Linked DNA regions of Homo sapiens. The protein of the gene in region 2 purifies or fractionates together with the protein of the main gene of each other region. This does not show direct contact. Each region holds a gene or a part of one and is shown on either strand. Other genes may lie near its edges.

What was found. The genes of interacting proteins can lie anywhere in the genome.
Region 1: the proteins of RXFP1 (region 2) and PDZD8 purify together in Homo sapiens (affinity purification with mass spectrometry; one large-scale study listed by BioGRID and IntAct). This does not show direct contact.
Region 3: the proteins of RXFP1 (region 2) and KCNT2 purify together in Homo sapiens (affinity purification with mass spectrometry; one large-scale study listed by BioGRID and IntAct). This does not show direct contact.
Region 4: the proteins of RXFP1 (region 2) and ABCB9 purify together in Homo sapiens (affinity purification with mass spectrometry; one large-scale study listed by BioGRID and IntAct). This does not show direct contact.

Annotation. Positions count from the first base shown.
Region 1 is NC_000010.11:117,281,441-117,285,940, reverse strand, and holds part of PDZD8 (PDZ domain-containing protein 8), read left to right. Parts: intron 1-141; coding exon of another isoform or gene 142-170; exon of another isoform or gene 171-247; intron 248-469; coding exon 470-2,673; 3' UTR 2,674-4,500. UniProt on the Homo sapiens protein: Molecular tethering protein that connects endoplasmic reticulum and mitochondria membranes. PDZD8-dependent endoplasmic reticulum-mitochondria membrane tethering is essential for endoplasmic reticulum-mitochondria Ca(2+) transfer.
Region 2 is NC_000004.12:158,519,288-158,525,547, reverse strand, and holds the start of RXFP1 (relaxin receptor 1 isoform 1 precursor), read right to left. Parts: upstream 3,667-6,260; 5' UTR 3,572-3,666; coding exon 3,523-3,571; intron 1-3,522. UniProt on the Homo sapiens protein: Receptor for relaxins. The activity of this receptor is mediated by G proteins leading to stimulation of adenylate cyclase and an increase of cAMP.
Region 3 is NC_000001.11:196,605,641-196,610,644, forward strand, and holds the start of KCNT2 (potassium channel subfamily T member 2), read right to left. Parts: upstream 2,801-5,004; 5' UTR 2,670-2,800; coding exon 2,575-2,669; intron 1-2,574. UniProt on the Homo sapiens protein: Sodium-activated and chloride-activated potassium channel. Produces rapidly activating outward rectifier K(+) currents. Contributes to regulate neuronal excitability.
Region 4 is NC_000012.12:122,959,964-122,964,463, forward strand, and holds part of ABCB9 (ABC-type oligopeptide transporter ABCB9), read right to left. Parts: intron 360-4,500; 5' UTR 273-359; coding exon 1-272. UniProt on the Homo sapiens protein: ATP-dependent low-affinity peptide transporter which translocates a broad spectrum of peptides from the cytosol to the lysosomal lumen for degradation.

The sequences.
Region 1 (4,500 bases), on a different chromosome or scaffold from region 2:
TGAATCTTTCATCATATGTCTTGTAATCCCTGGAGTATTTTAGAATTTCCTTCAGTGGAATCACAGCTTTCCCTCACTCTAAGTCTGATTTAGCCATTAATAGAATCCTTTAAATAGATCTCTCTCTGTTCACTTCTTCAGTTCAAACTGAGAGATGTCATCTAACCTAAGAAGAGATAGAAAGCAATTAGGAGTTAGCATCCTGGCACTCTTTTTGGGATCCTGTGTCATCATCTGGTTTGAAAAGGTAAACATCTCCAGGATATCAGCACATTCAGGGTTTGAGAATTAGCACACTGATTCATCCAAAAGCCAAATAAAATATTGTTGAGATTTTCCTATTATTCTTCTATTAGTTAAATAACCAGAGGTAATGGCAATTATATATATTTAATTAAATACATTTAACAAATGTAGTAATTTCTATTGCAATAATTTACATGTTTTCCCTTTTAAAATCTTAAACCAGGTGTGAAAATCACATCAACACTGCAAGTGTTGAAGCTTATCAAGCAGGCTGGTGACCGAGTCCTGGTGTACTATGAAAGGCCTGTTGGCCAGAGTAATCAAGGTGCAGTGCTGCAAGATAACTTTGGCCAGTTGGAAGAAAACTTTTTGTCAAGCTCATGCCAATCGGGTTATGAAGAGGAAGCTGCCGGGTTGACAGTAGATACTGAAAGTAGAGAGCTGGATTCTGAATTTGAAGACTTGGCAAGTGATGTCAGAGCACAAAATGAGTTCAAAGATGAGGCACAATCATTAAGTCATAGTCCCAAACGTGTTCCAACAACACTTTCTATTAAACCCCTTGGAGCTATATCACCAGTTTTAAACCGTAAATTAGCTGTAGGAAGTCACCCACTACCACCGAAAATTCAGTCCAAAGATGGAAATAAACCTCCACCCCTAAAAACTTCTGAGATAACAGACCCAGCACAAGTGTCAAAACCAACCCAAGGATCTGCTTTCAAACCACCTGTGCCACCACGACCACAAGCGAAAGTTCCTTTGCCTTCCGCCGATGCTCCAAATCAGGCAGAACCAGATGTTCTCGTTGAAAAGCCAGAGAAGGTGGTGCCACCTCCTCTTGTAGATAAATCTGCTGAAAAGCAAGCAAAAAATGTGGATGCCATAGACGATGCAGCTGCACCTAAGCAATTTTTAGCAAAGCAAGAAGTGGCCAAAGATGTCACTTCAGAAACTTCCTGCCCTACTAAGGACAGTTCGGACGACCGTCAAACATGGGAATCATCAGAAATTCTTTATCGTAATAAGCTAGGAAAATGGACAAGAACCAGAGCATCCTGTTTGTTTGACATAGAAGCCTGTCACAGGTACTTAAACATTGCATTGTGGTGCAGGGATCCTTTCAAGTTGGGAGGTCTCATCTGTTTGGGGCATGTTAGTTTAAAACTTGAAGATGTGGCTTTAGGATGCCTAGCTACATCAAACACGGAATACCTTTCCAAATTGAGACTGGAAGCCCCCTCACCTAAGGCTATAGTCACTAGAACCGCACTACGCAATCTGAGTATGCAAAAGGGATTCAATGACAAATTTTGCTATGGTGACATTACTATTCACTTCAAATATTTGAAAGAAGGAGAATCAGACCACCATGTAGTTACTAACGTAGAAAAAGAAAAAGAACCCCATTTGGTTGAAGAAGTTTCTGTTCTCCCTAAAGAGGAGCAATTTGTTGGACAGATGGGTTTAACAGAAAACAAACACAGTTTTCAGGATACTCAGTTCCAGAACCCAACATGGTGTGACTACTGTAAGAAAAAAGTTTGGACTAAAGCAGCTTCCCAGTGTATGTTTTGTGCTTATGTTTGCCATAAAAAATGTCAAGAAAAGTGTCTAGCTGAGACTTCTGTTTGTGGAGCAACTGATAGGCGAATAGACAGGACACTGAAAAACCTTAGGCTGGAAGGACAGGAAACCCTCTTAGGCCTGCCTCCTCGTGTTGATGCTGAAGCTAGCAAGTCAGTCAATAAAACAACAGGTTTGACAAGGCATATTATCAATACTAGTTCTCGTTTATTAAATTTGCGTCAAGTCTCTAAAACTCGCCTTTCTGAACCAGGAACCGATCTCGTAGAACCTTCACCAAAACACACACCCAACACGTCAGACAACGAAGGCAGTGACACGGAGGTCTGTGGTCCAAACAGTCCTTCTAAACGGGGAAACAGCACAGGAATAAAGTTAGTGAGAAAAGAGGGTGGTCTGGATGACAGTGTTTTCATTGCAGTTAAAGAAATTGGTCGTGATCTGTACAGGGGCTTGCCTACAGAGGAAAGGATCCAGAAACTAGAGTTCATGTTGGATAAGCTACAGAATGAAATTGATCAGGAGTTGGAACACAATAATTCCCTTGTTAGAGAAGAAAAAGAGACAACTGATACAAGGAAAAAATCACTTCTTTCTGCTGCCTTAGCTAAATCAGGTGAAAGGCTACAAGCTCTAACACTTCTTATGATTCACTACAGAGCAGGCATTGAAGATATAGAAACTTTAGAAAGTCTGTCTTTAGACCAGCACTCCAAAAAAATAAGCAAGTACACAGATGATACAGAAGAAGACCTTGATAATGAAATAAGCCAACTAATAGACTCTCAGCCATTCAGCAGCATATCAGATGACTTATTTGGCCCATCCGAGTCTGTGTAGCAGACAGGTCTATTTAAGCTTTCAAATGAACAGGGTAAAGTTGCATCTAAAGTACCACAGATACAACCATGTTTAAATCCTCGTATGCACTCTGGCCTGCTTCTCCAGTTACTTGCTTGTGTAAGAACAAAAATGAGAAAGGTTGTTTTCCAGTAAAAACATGACCAGCTTACTAATTGGTTGTTTTGGATTGCATTTATAGCTATGCTTTTTTGGGTTTATACTGGGAATTTATTTTTACTAAATTATTTAACTTTTCTAATTATGTAATTATGTAAGCTAGCTTTTCATGTTTATGTATGTATGGTGTCCCCTTGTGTTATTTTTCTTCCTCTTGGTTTTTGAATTAGTGTTAAATAGAATACTGTCTAGATTCTTAAAATATTTTCATTTCCATCATGGTTATAACAAATTTGCTGCATGCCCAAACTGACAACAGCAATCACTGAGGGAACAGGTTTTGAATCTTTCTTTTGTGTTATGAAGTTTATCGTCTCTACTTGCTTGAGATTTTTGTTATTTTGGGGGTTTGGGGGTGCTTTTTGTTTTGTTTTTGCCAAATGTAACATGAAAGCAGATGCTGCAGCTTTAGTCTGTTATGCTGATTTAGTAAAAAAAAATTTTTTACATATATTGCTTGCTTTCGATGCTTCTGTGAAATTTTTTTCTAAAGCTTTTGTGCAGCTGTATGGTAAAAATATGGTGATTAATTTGAAGAGCTTACATTGAAAGACAATGTAATAGGAAATAAATGTAGATTGCAGTTGGTCAAGAATTTTGTAGAGAGGATAACAAGACTTAATTACTGAAAAACAGTAACATAGCATTTTGAAATATAATCTTTTAAAATATTGATGCTTTCCTTTTAAATGGAAATTTAAATTTTATAATTAAAAGTTTAAACATTTATGATAATTTTCCTCATCAGTTCTCCCATAGGAAATAAAGCATGTGAAAGGGTATTTAAAGTTTTGGAGGACTCTTTTTAAAATGACTGTGTTGATAACTAGTTTGGGCTGGTTTTGTTTTAGAAAAAACATTTTCATGTAGGAGTATTCTGTGAAGGAAAGGAATCATGCAAAATATACTTTTTGCTTTGGCGTCTTACAGTTGTAAAGGAATGGTGATCATTCTGAATACTTCTGTAGTGAGTATTCATTAAGAAAAGAATGACAAAAATAGTATTCATACATAGGAATTGGGACCAGTTCTCTGAAAATGAAGATATACTCACACTGGGTCCATTTTACGGGTCCCAGTAACATTTGACTGAGGGAAAACAAGTAAGCTCGACTGTTGTTGGGGTACCTTAATGGTTTCGGTCTGTTATATACCTATAAAATAGACAAGTATATGTTTGTCCCTTTGTAGGTAACTGCTATGATGATTGCTATATAGTGAAACTGACATGAGTTTAAAACTAGATGGAGCAGCTTTTATTGCTGGCAGGAAAAAGCATGGTGTAATATTAAGGACTGGGGCCCAGGTCTAGACTCCAGGACTCCATAAAAGAGTTTAAGTTCAAGCCCTTCCATTAATGAACTGTGTAAGCATAGGCAGTTACAAAAGGACCCATCTCTAAAATGGGAATAATAATACTTTACCTCCCTCACAGTATTGTTGTGAGGGAAACAATAGCATAACTGCAAAAGTGCTTTGAACAGTAAAAAGATATACAAGTAAAAGGCATTATTTATATGAGTAAGAAAGACATTTTTGAGGGGAGAAAAGTTATTCCACTTTAAAAATCAATAGCCAAGTCTCATGCCTTTTGTTACTTTAGTAAGCGAAAATTTCAGGTACTAAATACCTTTCTTAGCCAAGTTT
Region 2 (6,260 bases):
TTTGTACTAATGTGTGAAATTGTACTTGAAAGACTATTTAGTTCATAAACATAATAATTTCCCTTTATGTAGATCAGGGTGCATTTGCACAGATTCATTAATTTTCCTTCCATTTGAAACTTAAAAATATGATTCAAAATATGTAGTAAAAACAACACAAAATTGTCAGCAGCCTCCACAATATAAGGTGGTGAGAAGTTATTTAATTGGTACCACGCATGTTACCCTAAAAGTCCTGACTTGACCACGATGCAATCTAGGCATGTACCAAATTGCACTCATGCCCCATAAATTTATACAAATTAAAAAAAAAACCCAACCCCCCCCCGCCAAAGTATAAGGTGGGACACAGTATACCTCTGTGGTCTGCATATTGGTATGTTTATTCTCCCATCTTTTGGAATTGGATAAATATGCGAACATTCTCTTTTTCCACGTACTAACCAAGCTAATGGTCTGTTCTGGAATTGTCTCTTCCTTTTCTCTTCTTCATAGTTACAGAAAAAATCTGTTACAAGTTATGCCAGTGCTGGGATCCAAAGCAAAGGCCAGGTAGCCTGGTAAGTGTCTCTAGGAGTCTGAAAGAGAAGACCTTACTAAGCTGGGCCGGTCCTTGGCAAAATACTAAAGTGGATCAAGCTTATGTTTGAACTCCTTCTATTTCCTATATCTTCACTTGTTTCCTGCCTATCTAAAACATTAAAAGAATTGTTTTGCTTAGTGATATCATTTAAGAAATAATACAGCATTTTCTGATAAGAACTTATAATACAAGTTGTCCTGGGGATTGTTTTTTAACCACGGATTTTGAAATATATACTTACAAGAAGTTGAAAAAATAGTATAGAGAGGTCCCATACACCTTTCACCCAGCTTTCCTTAATCTTACATAAATTTAGTACATTACAAAACTAAAAAATTAACATTGGCACAATACAATTAATTAGACTATGGACAGAAGGATTTTTAAAGAATGAAAAATTCTCAAGGCTAAAAGGAAATCTTTTCTAAGTCTTAATGTCACCTCTGTTTGTGTGGACCTCAATTTTTGCACTTGTCTTATTGAATTGAATTCTAGATCAACGTGCCGTCTTCTCCATCCTATCCCTTTAGAGCAGGGACCATGCTTACTTTAACAAGGTAGGTGAATAAAGCATGGTCACTGCTCTGGCATGCATAGGTATTTTTGGTTGAAAGGATGACTAATAGTTGCTTACGTCTGTAACGGGCTTTATAGTTTTCAAAGCCCATTTATACACATTATGGCTACTGAGAATTATCATGGTCTAGGGGAGAGAGCACGGGCTCTGAAAGCATTCCAATCTTGGCATTTATTAGCTGGAGTCTTGTGACAAGGCACTGAATGTCCTACCTCGTGTGCTTAATTGTATCCACATAATAGAGTTGTTGTGAAGATTCAGGAAGTAATTTTTGTAATAAAGAATGGAACACAGGGTTTCTGAAAGGTAGACAGGGTAAAGGATTTGATTGCCATTTCACATGCTCAGAAGAGGTAAATCATTTGCTGAAAACCACAGAACCGGTACATGGTAGTGCAGCTAAGCGTCTTAGGTTAGGTGTCTTCCATGATATCACATCGCCTTTCCCGTTACAGGAAAGTGGATATAAAAACAAAACAAAACAAAGAAAACACACAAAGAAACAACAACCATGGGGCATTTACAGAGGTTTAAGAATTTGTCCTTATGTGTGGCTGTTGATTTCCATTGCTATGTGCCCAGGAAATTCTCACTTAGGTGGGGCCTGGGTGAGGGGCTAAACTCAAGGTGAGCCACGGCTGTGGGTGCTATTTCAGGGCGTCCCTGACAAGTGTTCCCCCACCCTAACATGCAGTTAATACCATGTAGCGAGGAATTGCCTTGCCAAACTTTGCTGCAAATGTTTATGCCCTCATTTCCTGGGGAAGGCGTGGAAGGATGAGAACTTGGAGCTCTCAACTTACACTACACTCCCAAATTTTCTTTTGAATCAAAAGAGAAGTTAAATTTAAAGAGACAGAGGGTTTTGGCATCATCATCACCACCATCATTATTATTTTCTGCTCATGAAAATAATTTATTAACAAAAGGGTACAGGTAAACATGGAATTTTTTTCCTAACCTGAAATGACTGGTAACACAGTGGCCAAAGTTGCTTCCCAACCTGCCCTAAACACCTTTTATATACCCTTAAATTCTTCATACTAGAAAGACTATTTTGGAAATATTCCTCTGGCTTATTTAATCTATTCATTTCATTGAAATGGAATAGGGATGGTAAAATATGGCATTAATTTTTGAAGCTGTTGGCCACAAATGTCAAAAGCTCTGGTAGTTTAAACATGCAATTATAATTAGAAACATTACATTTTTTATGGTGGTTTGCAATTTATTGTTTTCCCTTCAGTTAAAAAATAGGACTGTCAGTAATCAAGATTAGAGATGGAGAAGGCTAGGACTAGAATATTTCCCCAGGATTCTGAATAGTTTCTGTGGTTTTGATGCTGTCCTTTAACTTTAGATGCGATGGAGCAGAGGGAAGGAGGAAAGAAGGAGGAAAAGGAAGATATAATCACTTTGACATATTACAATTGGGAGAGTCAGGATTGAAAGTTACCCTGAGACATTCCTTAATAGAAGAGCTCAGAGTTAACAAAACTTATGCAAACTTTTAAGAGACACAGGACTATAAAAAGGCTTGTTAATTTCTAAATTAGTAAAAGCCCACATTCCCGGAATCATAAAGTATTAAAGATACCCAGAAAGTTTTGTTCTTGGTTTGGCTTTGACTTTTTCATCATTTATTACCTAAGAAACAAAAACACTTTATTTCTGTCTACATACTATAATTCAAATGGAGCTTAACACACAACAACTGTTTCCCTTGAATTTAAAAAAGATTTTCTGAAAAATAAACCATAGCACACACAGAGAAAACAAAATTTGTCATTATAGTAAAAATAACATGCCCATTTGGAGCTTCTTTTGTGCCTATGTTTTTCATTGCTTTGTGCTTTCCCTTGTTTTTCTTTCAAGGAACAGTGATAAACCTTGCTAAATAAAAAGAGTTTTATGAATGCATCTCCCTGCCCAGAAGCACACCTATGATAGCAAATGACAAAGAATAAGGGCGACAGAGCATTACAACTATACAGAAACTGGCACAAATGTGAGAACTTTCCTAGGAGTTTTCAATGAATATATTCCTTGAATACAGTTTAAGAATTACTACTCTTTAAATATTATAATGTTGCTTAAAATATCAATTATATGAATTGGTTATTATGAAGCCTAGGTTTACACGGCACATCAGTCTCGCTTCACTATTGACTATGATAAGATATTATGGTCTTTAATACAAATACCAGACATATACTAAGAAGAACAATTCTGAAGTGAGATTACAATTTTATCAGCAAGTGCATTTTATCTTAAAAGCATAAATATAAGGAGTAAACATTTGTGCTTGTGGTTATTCCACAAAATACTAAGGTATACAAAATTAGATACTGAGCATACTTACAATATTTTCCAAAAATTAAGATGTAGAAGAAGACAGAACCAGATGTCATTTCCTTCTATCTGAGCAACTGATTAATGAAAGTGAGCAAAATTTGGTCTTGGTTTCTGAATCGCATACAGCTCACAGTGGTTGTGTGCTATTTCTGTCTGCAATCTTAGCAGTTACAAAGCAGTCCTCCCTCCTTCCACTCCCATTTCCTTTCTCTGTCTCTTTCCATTCCTCTTTTTTTCTTTCCTCCTTTCTATTCTCAGGATCTCTCCTCCCCGCCCTCCTTCTCTAAATGTCCTAATCTCCTTCTTTACACACACGCACGCGTGCGCGTGCACACACACACACAAAGCTGAAAAGCAATAAAAAGTTTCAGAGAACACATAACGCTATCTACAAACGAGGGCGTATACGAAGTCTGAGAAATGTCTGAACTGATCAAAGACACACTACCAGAAAGAAATTGAGCTAGAGATATCTCATAAGCAAAAACATATTTTTTCCCCTAATGACACAGGAATAGGAAAAGAATGGAATTACACAGGGCAAAATGCCTTTGTGGAATTAACTGTGGGACAGCGATTAAAGTCTAACTACAGCAATCGTTTATAAACTGTTTGAGTTTGGGAATTCGAACAATAGGATATTGTTGAAAGAAGAATACAAAGGAATAAAACAACTTAAAATCCTTTTGAACTTGTGAATTTTGCTACAATGGAGACCATGACATGTCAGTGGATGTCCTGGAGCAAAGCTGGCCTGGGTTTGAATTGTAGGTCCCCTGTGACTTTAGAGTTATGCAGGTGCTGACTCTTGGCTGAGCCTTGCTTTTCTGGAGCAAAATATGTATGCAGCAAGGTAGCTGTGATGGCCAGCACAGGGCATAGTGAGGGGTGTAGGTCCTACTGCATTATAGGTGATTACTAAGTGTCAGTCATTCATATGATGATTTTTATTATTGGACCAGTGGGGGGAAAAGTATGAAAATGCAATGAACATTTCTGTAGACTGCATTTTCTTTTAACCAGACTGGGTCATTCTTATTTTTCAACTTGCTAATGAATTTCTGGAACAAGTGAGTAGTAGCCCTTTGACATGAGGAATTTATTTTTGAGGTTAATGCTCCCTACTCGTAGATATACACGTAGAATCTGCTTGAATTACATATCTGTATATCATTGACTTCAATATAATAAGCCTATTTCTAAATGAGGGCTAAAAGGTTATACTAACACTGCTTCCTCCCTCCATAAATATAATTAATTCCATGAAAGAAGAATTTTAATATAGAAATCTTCACAAACCCTTATTCATTTAGTAGTAGATTTAGTGAAGACACTGTTCTTTTGATGGACATGCTTATGGTTAACTGAATTTAGTCCCATAAAATGTTCACTATTTTTAATAATACTTGAAGTATTTTAAGATTATTATGTGAGTGGTTCATGGATTTTTTTAAATTTATTTAGAAATAGTAGTTTTTTGGAAGGATGCTGTGGAACGTGTCAAGGGCAGTTTCAGAAGGGGGACCCATAAGAAGCTTCTTAATAGTAAAATTGAAGGACTTGCTTTGGGAATTGTCAACAAAAAGTAAGCTGTTGATACAGAGGTCTTCAAAATCATTCTGATGTTATTTTGCAAACTTTGAAACTTTTGCCTGAGCGAATATCACAGATACATACAATTAGTGGGCGGGTAGCCAGGAAGTACTCGTTAACAATGTATTTTTAATCTCTCAAATTATCAGGGCAAAATTTCCAAATCACCTCTCATTTTATTAAGAATCTATTAGGTTTTACTAAAATAGATATTCATCTGAATGAATAATTTTCATGGTTTGTTTTCTCAGGGTGTCACTTCTGTCTTATTTTTGGCAAAGACAGTGAATCTGGCATATTAGTTTTATAGAAGTATTTTGGTGGCAAAACCCAAAAGTGAATATAGCACACCCTGGCCATACATTGAGGCAGGTACTGTTTCTACTATGGGCTGGAGAATTCCTTATTGTGAGAGGCTGTCCTTTACATTGTAGAACGTTTAGTGGCCTCCCTGGCCTCCACCCATTGGATGCCTGTAGCACTCTCCAGTTGCGACAATTAAAGGTGTCTCCAGCCGTTGGCAAATGTTCCTGAAGGACAAAATCGCTCCTGGTTGAGAACCACTGCATTGTAGCAAAAGACTCCCCTCAGTAATGTTTAGGTATTATTATTATTATTATTATTATTTTTACCAGATTACTGAAATAGAATTCTTATTAAGATTTGAATTAAAGTGTGTTTTCTCATTCTCTTGTTTTGCAGTTTGAAGACACATATTAAAGAGTTTTAAAAACAAACAGATGGTGTATGTTCTTAGCCTTCACTTCCTGCCTACATTGTTCAATTATAAACTTGCACTCTGGGCCCAATAGAATCTGTGATGTCAACGCCTCCACTTGGCTGAGCATGTCAGGGGTTTCTGCCCTCGACATAGGCTAATAGAGGCTGATACCCTTTCTTATCTTTGAATCTCTTCTTAAAACCTCGTTGAGGCTCTTTGAATAACAAAACCTTCTATTTGAAAATTACTTCTCGAACCAACCTAGTGAGTCAAACCAAACAAGCATTGTTAACCTGTTTGCACTATACACATCCACAGTAATCTTGCAGCTTTTTCATCCTACCATGACGGAAATAAACCACGACTTTCTTTTTTTCAGCATCATGTTTTAAAACTGGGTAATGACACTTGAGGGCTTCTGTCCACGTTTC
Region 3 (5,004 bases), on a different chromosome or scaffold from region 2:
TCAACTCTATAAGAATTGAGTCCAAGAAGATAACTGAGTAGAATGAGATTGCTATCCAGGCGTAATTGCAAAGAGGAATTTGTCACCATATTATAGACAAGGAAGATGACTTTACCTACCACATATTAGCTTAGGAGTCTGAAAAGGGAGAAAAAAAGGATTGCAAAGGGCAAATCAGAAGTGAAGAAGGGAACTAATATTTAATGAGCACCTAAACTATGCTAGGTGCTGTAAATTATTCTTATAAGTTCAAATAAATTAAGTGAAAAGAACTTAAGAATTTCTTGAGGGATTTGAATAATAATAAACTGAACTGAAGAGTTATCTTTACACTGATAAGATATAATATCCAAGACACGTATTTAATTTACCAAAATTTCAGTTTCCTTGTGCCTAACATAATTGCCTGCTATTCAGAGTTTGTCTGAGGATTAACTAAGAAAGAACATACCGCACAGTTAAAAGAACTTGGGAGTACTTATTTCCAACTAAATGTTAGTTCTGCGCCTCTCCATCCTTCCTCTTGTCACAGTTTTATAAGGTAGACAGTATAATTCCCATTATAAAAAATAATATTGCTGAATCTCATAATGGCTGAATGACTTTCCCAAGGCCACTCAGCTAGTGAAGGAAACAGCCAAGGACTGAATCTGGGTTTCTCTGATTCCAAGTATCTTGCCTTCAAAGATTAACAACAAATGGAACCAAAACCAAAGAATAGTTTTCCATGAAGCCACAAAAGTAGCCAAATCCTTAAAAATGGTTGAATGATTGTTTTAAATATTTAATAACTTATTTTAGTAGTAAATGTGGCCTGCTTTTTAAGTTAAAGTTGGGCTAGCATAACCTTTTAATAGAACATAAAATTTTAACCATTCTGCAAAACTTTTTTAATATGGCACTGATCCATTTAGGCAGTGTTCAACTAACCAAAATTCTTAATTACTAAAATATTTCTGCAGCATCCTTAGAAAAATGAGGGCAACCACATGAAAATTAACATATTGGATATGATATTTAAAACAAACAAACAACAATACCATCACTATAACCAAAGTATGTGCTTTATGTGTTTAATCTATCTCACACTTTCTACAAAGAGGATTTCTATTCTATATAATGATCCTGAGGTCCTGAACTAAATATACATTCAGTCACTAGGAACACCATGCTACACTTACTAAGCCATTTAACCAGGCTAATGCAGTTTATCTAAATGTCAATTTGTATTACAAATTCACTTAAAAATTATTTTCTTTATCTTCAGTTTACCCAAACACTTTACAAGAATACTGAGAAATTGGTATTACTTCTTTAAATTTTTAGCCAATATGTGTGGTTTTGCCTAAAAAAGAGATTGAACCAAAATATCCTCTACAAAACATCCATCTCCTTTCAAATTACTAATATGAGACCAAACAAGATGCCCATAATTGATGCTCAAGATAAAATCCTCAGTGTGTAGAGACAGGAGTTGGTATTGGGAGCTGAAAAGGTGAAGAAAAGAAATAGAGTGTATTGGTCAGTGGTGAATGAGGAGGGGATTTTGGATTGGACCAATAATGGATCTTTTATATAACTAAAATAGCACATCAATACTAAACTAAACTTCAATGAAACATTTCAATTGAGTTGAGAACCTAGTTAGTATACATGTATTATTTTAAAACAAAGAAATGTGGCATGTGATATATGGGATGACTATTCCAGAAAATACTAAATTCGCTGAAATACAAAATGTGCTTGAGACAGAAATAGACAGAGGAATTTCAGAAGTTTGTGCAAAGCAGTAATGCTATAAATAAAACACATGAACAATATTTTGCTAACAATAAATATTCTAGTTTTGAAACTTAATTTTAATTTTGAGACATATATTCTGTTTCAGTTAAAAAAATATACTAGTTATGAAAAGGTTGTATCATGTTATACAAACATCATTATTCATAATGGTCAGAGTCACCTGTTCAAAGTGAGTATATTGTATTAAAAAGGTTGTCATTTTCACTAACTACCTGTTACATATTTAAACCAATTGTCTACTTAAAACTCCAAAATGTTTAAACAGCATAAAATTTCCAGTGCCAAGTAGATACCTACTCAAGACAACACAGACAAGGAGGAGGTAAATAGACTCAGGAGATTTTAAGTTTCTAATGTGCTTTTTCAAACAACTTGCATGCAATTTTGAGTTTGATTAACCACACCTAAGGAAAAAATGCAAATTTTCTGGAAATGATATTGCATACCATTTGGGTGTATTGTACCTCTGATACCAGCCTTATACACATCCTAGAAAAGCACAGATAGACAAAAGAATAAGCACCAAATGAATGCAATAAATACCTTGCAAGAATAAGAAAAGTGTAAAGAAAAAGAGTTCCTTATCTATAGCAACAGTTATATAGAGTCAAAATGGAGAGACAAATCAGAGTCTCTTTTACTCCCTCCCCCAGCCTAGTCTCCCTCTCTGGCTCCGTTTTCCTTTTCTCCCTCCTTTCCCCACTTCGGCCCTCCCATTTCCGTCTCTTTTTCAGCAATATTTACAGAACAATCCTCCACCACACCACTCACCTGTCGTCGTTTTGCCATCCTTGGTCCCCTAGCAGCAAATCTCGAAACCTGTACCTGGGAGGCAGAGGGGGCACTTCGCTCTCCAAATCAACCATCCTTCCTCAAAGAGTGGGAAACATCAAACAACAAATGGAGGAGAGGAGGGAGAAAGAAAGAAAATATTGCGGAGTACAGGGAGAGGACTAACAAGACGCTGTGGCCGAGAGAGGGATGGGAGAAGGGGAAGGGGACAGGGAGGGGGAGGGGGTCCGCTTGGAGCCGGAAGCTAAGGCTTGAAAGGGGGCTGGCTCCTCTTTCCCGAGGGTGTAATGGGGATGATGCAAACCCAACCCAGGAGCAAAAGTCTGGCTCTGACAAGAATCAACGCTGCCAAGGAACCGCCCCCAGGCTCGGCACCGCCTCTGGTCCCCAGGACTAGGGGGAGGCGGGTATAAAAAGTTACTTCGCCGAAAAAGACGCGCGGTGCCTAGAAAGAGGGGAGAGGGGTGGGAGTGAGCGCCGCTTGATGGTGAAGCACTTTCCTTAAAGGCAGTTGCCAGATCCTCCCAGAGGGCAGCCTCCCGGCTACTGTTCCCTCGGGCGGGCTTGCATCCGGCACAGCCCTGAGCTGGCGGGAATCGGGGGCGGTGGGTTTCGGCCCCAGACGCGGCCAACCCGGCTCTCCCCGCAATCTCCCTGTGGAGATGGAGCTGGAGGCCCAGCCAATGAGACTCCCCCTCATTAGCATAGCACAGTGACGGCACGGGGGTGCCTTGGGGACAACCAATGGGGGCGAGCTAATTAGCGGATTGCGGGGCTCCAGACCCTTCTCTGGGAGGAGGGGGGCCAGGGTGCTTGGAGTGTTCCACTATGCCACGAGCTCCCTCGCTTTGATTGCCTTCAGTCCAGGTGGGCGGGATGAAAAAATTGCACGTTTCTGGAAAGGGAATCCCCACTCTCAGCCCCAGGAAAATCCCATTTTTTTCTCACATTCTGAAAGAAGGGAGGTGTTTCCCTGAACTCGGGGAAAAAGAAGGGCCACCTTAGGCCGCTGAAGAGAAGCATTTAGATGACAGGGAAAGCACATGGAAACGCACTGAGGATTTTACAGTGGTGAGTTGCTGTTACTGCTGTCGCTGCTACTAGCAGCGTTGTGGGCTTCCAGGTGGCCTGGCCTCAGCCTTCGGTCCCCTCCTATTAGTGGTTCACACGGAGGAAGAAGTGAGCCCGAGAGAACAGGGTCTGTTTTTCAGTAAGAACCACTGCTTACATGAACCCTGCTACACAAGCTATGGTTCTATTTGCGCTTACCGTTCTTTCCTTCAAAAACTGATTGCATCAGAGTATATACAGACCGAATACCAACCACCTGACAGCCTGGGCCGGAGGATAACCATATGGCTTCTCCTGCCCTTACTTAAGAACCGCTCTGTGTGGAGGAACAAGCTTGTTCCTTGATAAATGGATACGATGTGAGAGACAATAATCAAAGAACATACAGAGGGATTTGGAAATACCTGTGAGGTACACATACTTCTTCGAGGTGGGGGTCAAGGAAGACATTGAAAATGAACCAAGCCTTCTATATTCGTTCGCAGCCTACTTTAGGGAAAAGAGCAAAGGTGAAGCAAGCAGAGAGAATAGTATGAGTAGAGGCATAGGGATTTTTTAGAATATTTGGCTTATCCAGAAAATAGTGATTAATTTGGCATGATTAATGCTCAGTAGAGGTCATGTAGCAGAGGGTTTATTTAAGAAGCTAGAAATGAAGGAAGAAATTACCAAAACTTGTAACATCAAATGAAATACAATGACTACTGAAACCTGAAGAATAGCAGTTGAAATAAAAGTCATACTGTTTGTCTCTGTCTTCAAAATCCTACTCATCCTTCCAGACCCATCTCAAATTACATATCCTCCATTAGATTTCTTGGTTTTTCCAGCTTCTTATGATGTCTTCTTCCTTTGAACCCCTTTGTTTGAACCCTTCATAACCCATGTGAGTATTTTGCCTGGAATGCTTACTATAACCTGACCCGCTATACGATTATCTGTGCGTTTTTCTTTCAACTCTTCCCCTCTCCCTGTGGCTTAGCTGCCTCTAGCACGGGACCTTCAAAATAGCCACATTTCAACAAATAGGTGTGGAGTTGCATTAAAAGCTATTAAATCTAGGAAATTAAGCATGTTTTTTTCCATCCATGCTTGCACTCCTGTGGTATGTGTTTGTTTATGAAATCATAATTTAGCACGAACTTTTGTAATTACTTTGCTAAATAAGAAAGTAATATTGCTACATTATTAGTTTATACAGATAGAGATAGAGAGAGAGATCTGGTTTATATTTTAGACCTTATCATCTCCTATTAAAATGATTCTATTAATTTTATTTGTAATGTTCCAAGTTAATATTTATAGTTACAGTCTAACTGTATTATTTGGATGACAGAA
Region 4 (4,500 bases), on a different chromosome or scaffold from region 2:
AGGCACACGAGGGTGATGACCAGCCACGAGGCCCGCAGCCGCCGGGGCCCCAGCGCACTGTTCTTGGCCACACCAATGGTGGCTCCCAGCAGCAGGCAGCTGCGGTACAGGCAGGCTGCCCAGAGATCCAGCACCGAGTCAAAGATGTTGAAGTGGCGGATGTCCTCCAGGAGGCTGCGGTCCAGGTGGCTGAAGACATAGATGGCCGTGGTCACGCAGATGTCCACACTCATGAAGGCCAAAGTCACCACCACCGCCTTCCACAGCCGCATCCTGCTGGTTGGAGGTGGGCGGGTGCTGAAGGCCAGGTTGTAGCTCACGGGGGCAAGGCCATCATCATCCACAGGGCGAGGCCAGGCCTGTAGGGACAACAGCAAACATCAGCACAAGGGGTTCAGGTTTGCCACTCGCTGGCTGTGTGACCTTGAGAAAGTCACTTGACATCTCTGAGCCTTAGTTTTCTCATCTGTAAAATGGCAATATCAACTTCCCGGGTACTAAGATTCCACTCATTCAAGGGATACTTACTGAGTGCCCACTGCGGCCAGGTGCTGTTCTTTGTTCTTTGTCATGAACAAAAAGAACAAAGATCCCTGCTCTCCTGGAGATGACATACTCATGCAGGAGACAGATAATAAGGAAATGGGCTCACGCCTGTAATCCCAGCACTTTGGGAGGCCGAGGTAGGTGGATCACCTGAGGTCAGGAGTTGAAGACCAGCCTGGCCAACATGGTGAAACCCCCATCTCTACTAAAAATACAAAATTTAGCTGGGTGACAGAGCGAGACTCCATCTCAAAAAAAAAAAAAAAAGATAATAAGGAAATAATGTGTGTCTTGTGAGGCCAAGGTTGGAGGATCCCTTGAGGCCAGGAGTTGGAGAGCAGCCTGGGCAACAGGGTGAGACCCTGTCTTTAAAAAGCAAACAAACAAACAAACAAACAAACATTAACTGAGTGTGGTAGCATGCTCCTGTAGTCCAAGCTACTTGGGAGGCCAAGATGGGAGGATCGCTTCTTCAGCCTGGGAGTTCGAGGCCACAGTGAGCTATGATCATGCCACTACACTCCAGCCCTGGTGACAGCAAGATCCTATCTCTAAAAAAAAAAATTTTTTTTAATTAAAAAAAGAGATAAGGGTTGTGGTGGAAAAAAGAGGGGGGTAAATAGGATGGGGTGAGGGTGAATAGGATAGGGGTGGGGGAAGACAGAGATCAATTTTATTTTATTTATTTATTTATTTGAGACAGAGTCTTGCTCTGTCGCCCAGGCTGGAGTACAGTGGTGCGATCCCGGCTCACCGCAACCTCCGTCTCCCTGGTTCAAGCGATTCTCCTGCCTCAGCCCCCCAAGTAGCTGGGACTACAGGTACCCCACCACCATGACCAGCTAACTTTTTGTATTTTTTTTAGTAGAGACGGGGTTTCACCATGTTGGCCAGGCTGTTCTCAAACTCCTGACCTCAAGTGATCCACATGCCTCAGTAACCCAAAGTCTGGGATCAAAAGCGTGAGCCACTGTGCGGGGCCAGAGATCAATTTTAAATAGGGGGCCAGAGAAGACCTCGCTGGGTAGGTAACACTTGAGCAAGACTTGAAAGAGTTATGGAAGTCTGCCAAGTGGCTATCTGGGGAAAAGCACTTGGCACAGGTGAAACAGTGCCAGAGCCCCAAGGCAGGAGTGCCCCTTGGGAAGGCAGCAAGGCCCCATGAGATCAGAGAGGGTGGGGAGTATCTGGAGGATTTTGCATCCATAGTGAGGACGAAGCTGAGATAAGCAGAGTTTAATAAACAGCCGCTGTCTTTACTACCACTACTCATTTCTCTGAACCTGTTTCCTCATTTGCAAAATGTGAGTGTGAGGTTCAATGTGTCAGTTCTGGGCAGAGTGCCTGGTGCATAATTGCTGCTGATTGTAATCAACCATATACAGTGTGTGCTTAATAAATGTTTGTCCACTTTTCTCCTCCCACGTCAGGCCTTCTATCTCTGCAACCCCAAATAAACTATTTTGGTCTAAGAGGGAACTTGACAGCTGTGGGGGTGGCTTGCAGGCCACACAGCAATCCAGAAACCTTGGCATCTGCTTGGAAGTTTCCAGAATCTTTTCCTCCTGCCCAGGTTGGCCCTCGTGCCCAGCCCTAGGCCCCTTTGGTTTTCTGAATCTTGATGTCTGCTTTATCCAAGGCATCTCCCGGCACTGGGTCCCTCAGGACTCCCCCAGAGCCGCAGGGACACCCGGGAAGTGGGCCTGGAGGCCTGAGTTTGTGAGTGGGGCTTGTCCACGGTAGGGTTAGGACCGGGCTGGGGTGTGTCCCTGGGTGCTACCTCCTGTCTCAGCTCCAGTCCTTCCTCCCGTGGGCCTTTTGTTGTCATATCTGCAAAATGGGCTGGGCTCTAGATCCCCCAAGAGGAGGGGTGAGGCGCTGGGTGACAGCGGGGATGACTGTCGTGGCTGGGAAGGGGCCATCCTGAGAGAGATCCTCTCCCCGAAGCTCTGGCGCCCAGGTGCCCAAACCGCTCACACTGTGGCATGACTGGAACCTCACACAGTCCCACGAGGCCAGGGTTTCCATATTCCCGTTTACAGTTAGGGAAACTGAGGCACAGAGAGACAAAACCACCTGATCCAGACATTCAGCCAACAAGGGCCCAAGCCAGGATGACTTGAGGCAGTCAGTGAGTGTAGGACCCCAGCATCTGCCTCTCCACCTGTCTACTGCATGCCTGGCACAAAGCAGTTGTCTAATAACTACAAGCAGACAGGGATGTAACACTGCACTTCCTGTGAGCCCTGCCCTGCACCATGTGCTTCAAATCCAGGTGGCCCCACCTATTTAATCCTCACAGCAACTTTGTGAGATGTGCACTGTCATCCCTTCCACTTAACAGATGGAGAAACTGAGGCCCAGAGAAGTGAAGAATTTGCCCAAGATTACACAGCTTCTGAATAGCAGAGCTGGGATGTGGATTCATAGGTGTCTGAGCCCAGAATCTGTGTTCTTCACCCCTAAACTAAGATAACATTCAATATAGAAAATGCTACCAGGGGCCAGGCATGGTGGCTCACACCTGTAATCCCATCTGGGCCTCTTGGGAGGCCAAGATGGGCAACAGCTTGAGCTCACGAGTTCGATTCCAGCCTGGGCAACATGGCGAAATCCCGTCTCTACTAAAAATACAAAAATTAGCCGAGCATGGTGGTGCACGCCTGTAACCCCAGCAACTCAGGAGGCTGAGGCAGAAGAATCACTTGAAACTGGGAGGTGGAGGTTGCGGTGAGCCGAGATTGCGCCACTGCACTCCAGCCTGGGTGACAGAGTGAAGGAAAATGCTACCGGGAAGTGTTCATCTAAGGAAAAGGGTCCCCAGCAGAGGGCTGGGCCGTGTGGCAGAGGTGATAAGACTGCTGAGGCTAATTGCTGGCAATGACAGCAGCTGGTGCCAGCTGACATTGGCTCCAGGCACTTACATGCGTCAGCACTCACCAGAGCCCTATGAAGTAGGTCCTATCATTATCCCCATTTTACAGTTAGGAAAACTGAGGAACAGAGAGATTAAGTGACCTGCCCTGGGTCACAGAGCTAGGTGACCCACAGAGTTGGGTCACAAGCTGGGATGTGAACCCTGGCCGTCCAGTTCCAAAATCTGTACTCTCAACTCCATAGCTCCAACCCTTCAAAACAGCCTCTCCAGGAGGTAGGCACAACCCCTACTAATGCTGAGAAGGGGTCTGAGATGCAGAGGGGGAATGGAGTGGGGGGATATAACAACCTCCAAGCCTGGGCCCTGCTTTCACCCCCACACCTCCAGGCACACCGAAGCCCATCGCAGAGATGACAGTTGCTTAGTCAGCAGCTGCCCCTCCAAAGACGGTCAGGGCCAAGCAGGGTCAAGGGCAAGGGGAAGTGGGTAGGATGGTCGGACACCCTCAGCCCAGGTCCTGGCTCCCTCCCCAGCCCTGCCTGTGCTGCCCACGCAGGCTCCTGTCTGCTGCAATGCAGAGGCCGTGGGGAGCGAGCGAGTGGGTGAGCTCCAGTCAGAGCCCAGGGAGGGAAGCTCCTGGCCTGGTGCCATTCCAGGCCTCCCAGCCAAGCCACTGCCGGCTGCACCAGGTGCTGCCAGCCGCCTCAGCTGCTGCTCTCCTCGTGGTGGGCACATGGGGTCCCTCAGTCCCCAGAAAGGGGCTCGGGCTCAGAAGTGGAACAGGAGGCAGATCCGCAAGAGACTCAAAACCTGGACAGCAGCCCAGGGGCTTGGCTGACTCTCCCAACCTGACTCCCAGCCTCTGGGGGAATTCCTTCCCCATCCCCCAACAGCCCAGGGTACCAGTCATGCCCCCCGCCTCCAGAAGCCTATTTATCTTCATCAGAATAAACAAAATTTCAAACACTCATATCGCAGACTACCAAAGCCACATTTTGCAGATGGGGAAACTGAGGCCCACAGAGGGAGGGGGTGAGGCTTGTCTCAGGTCATCCACCAGGCTGGGGCAGAGCAGT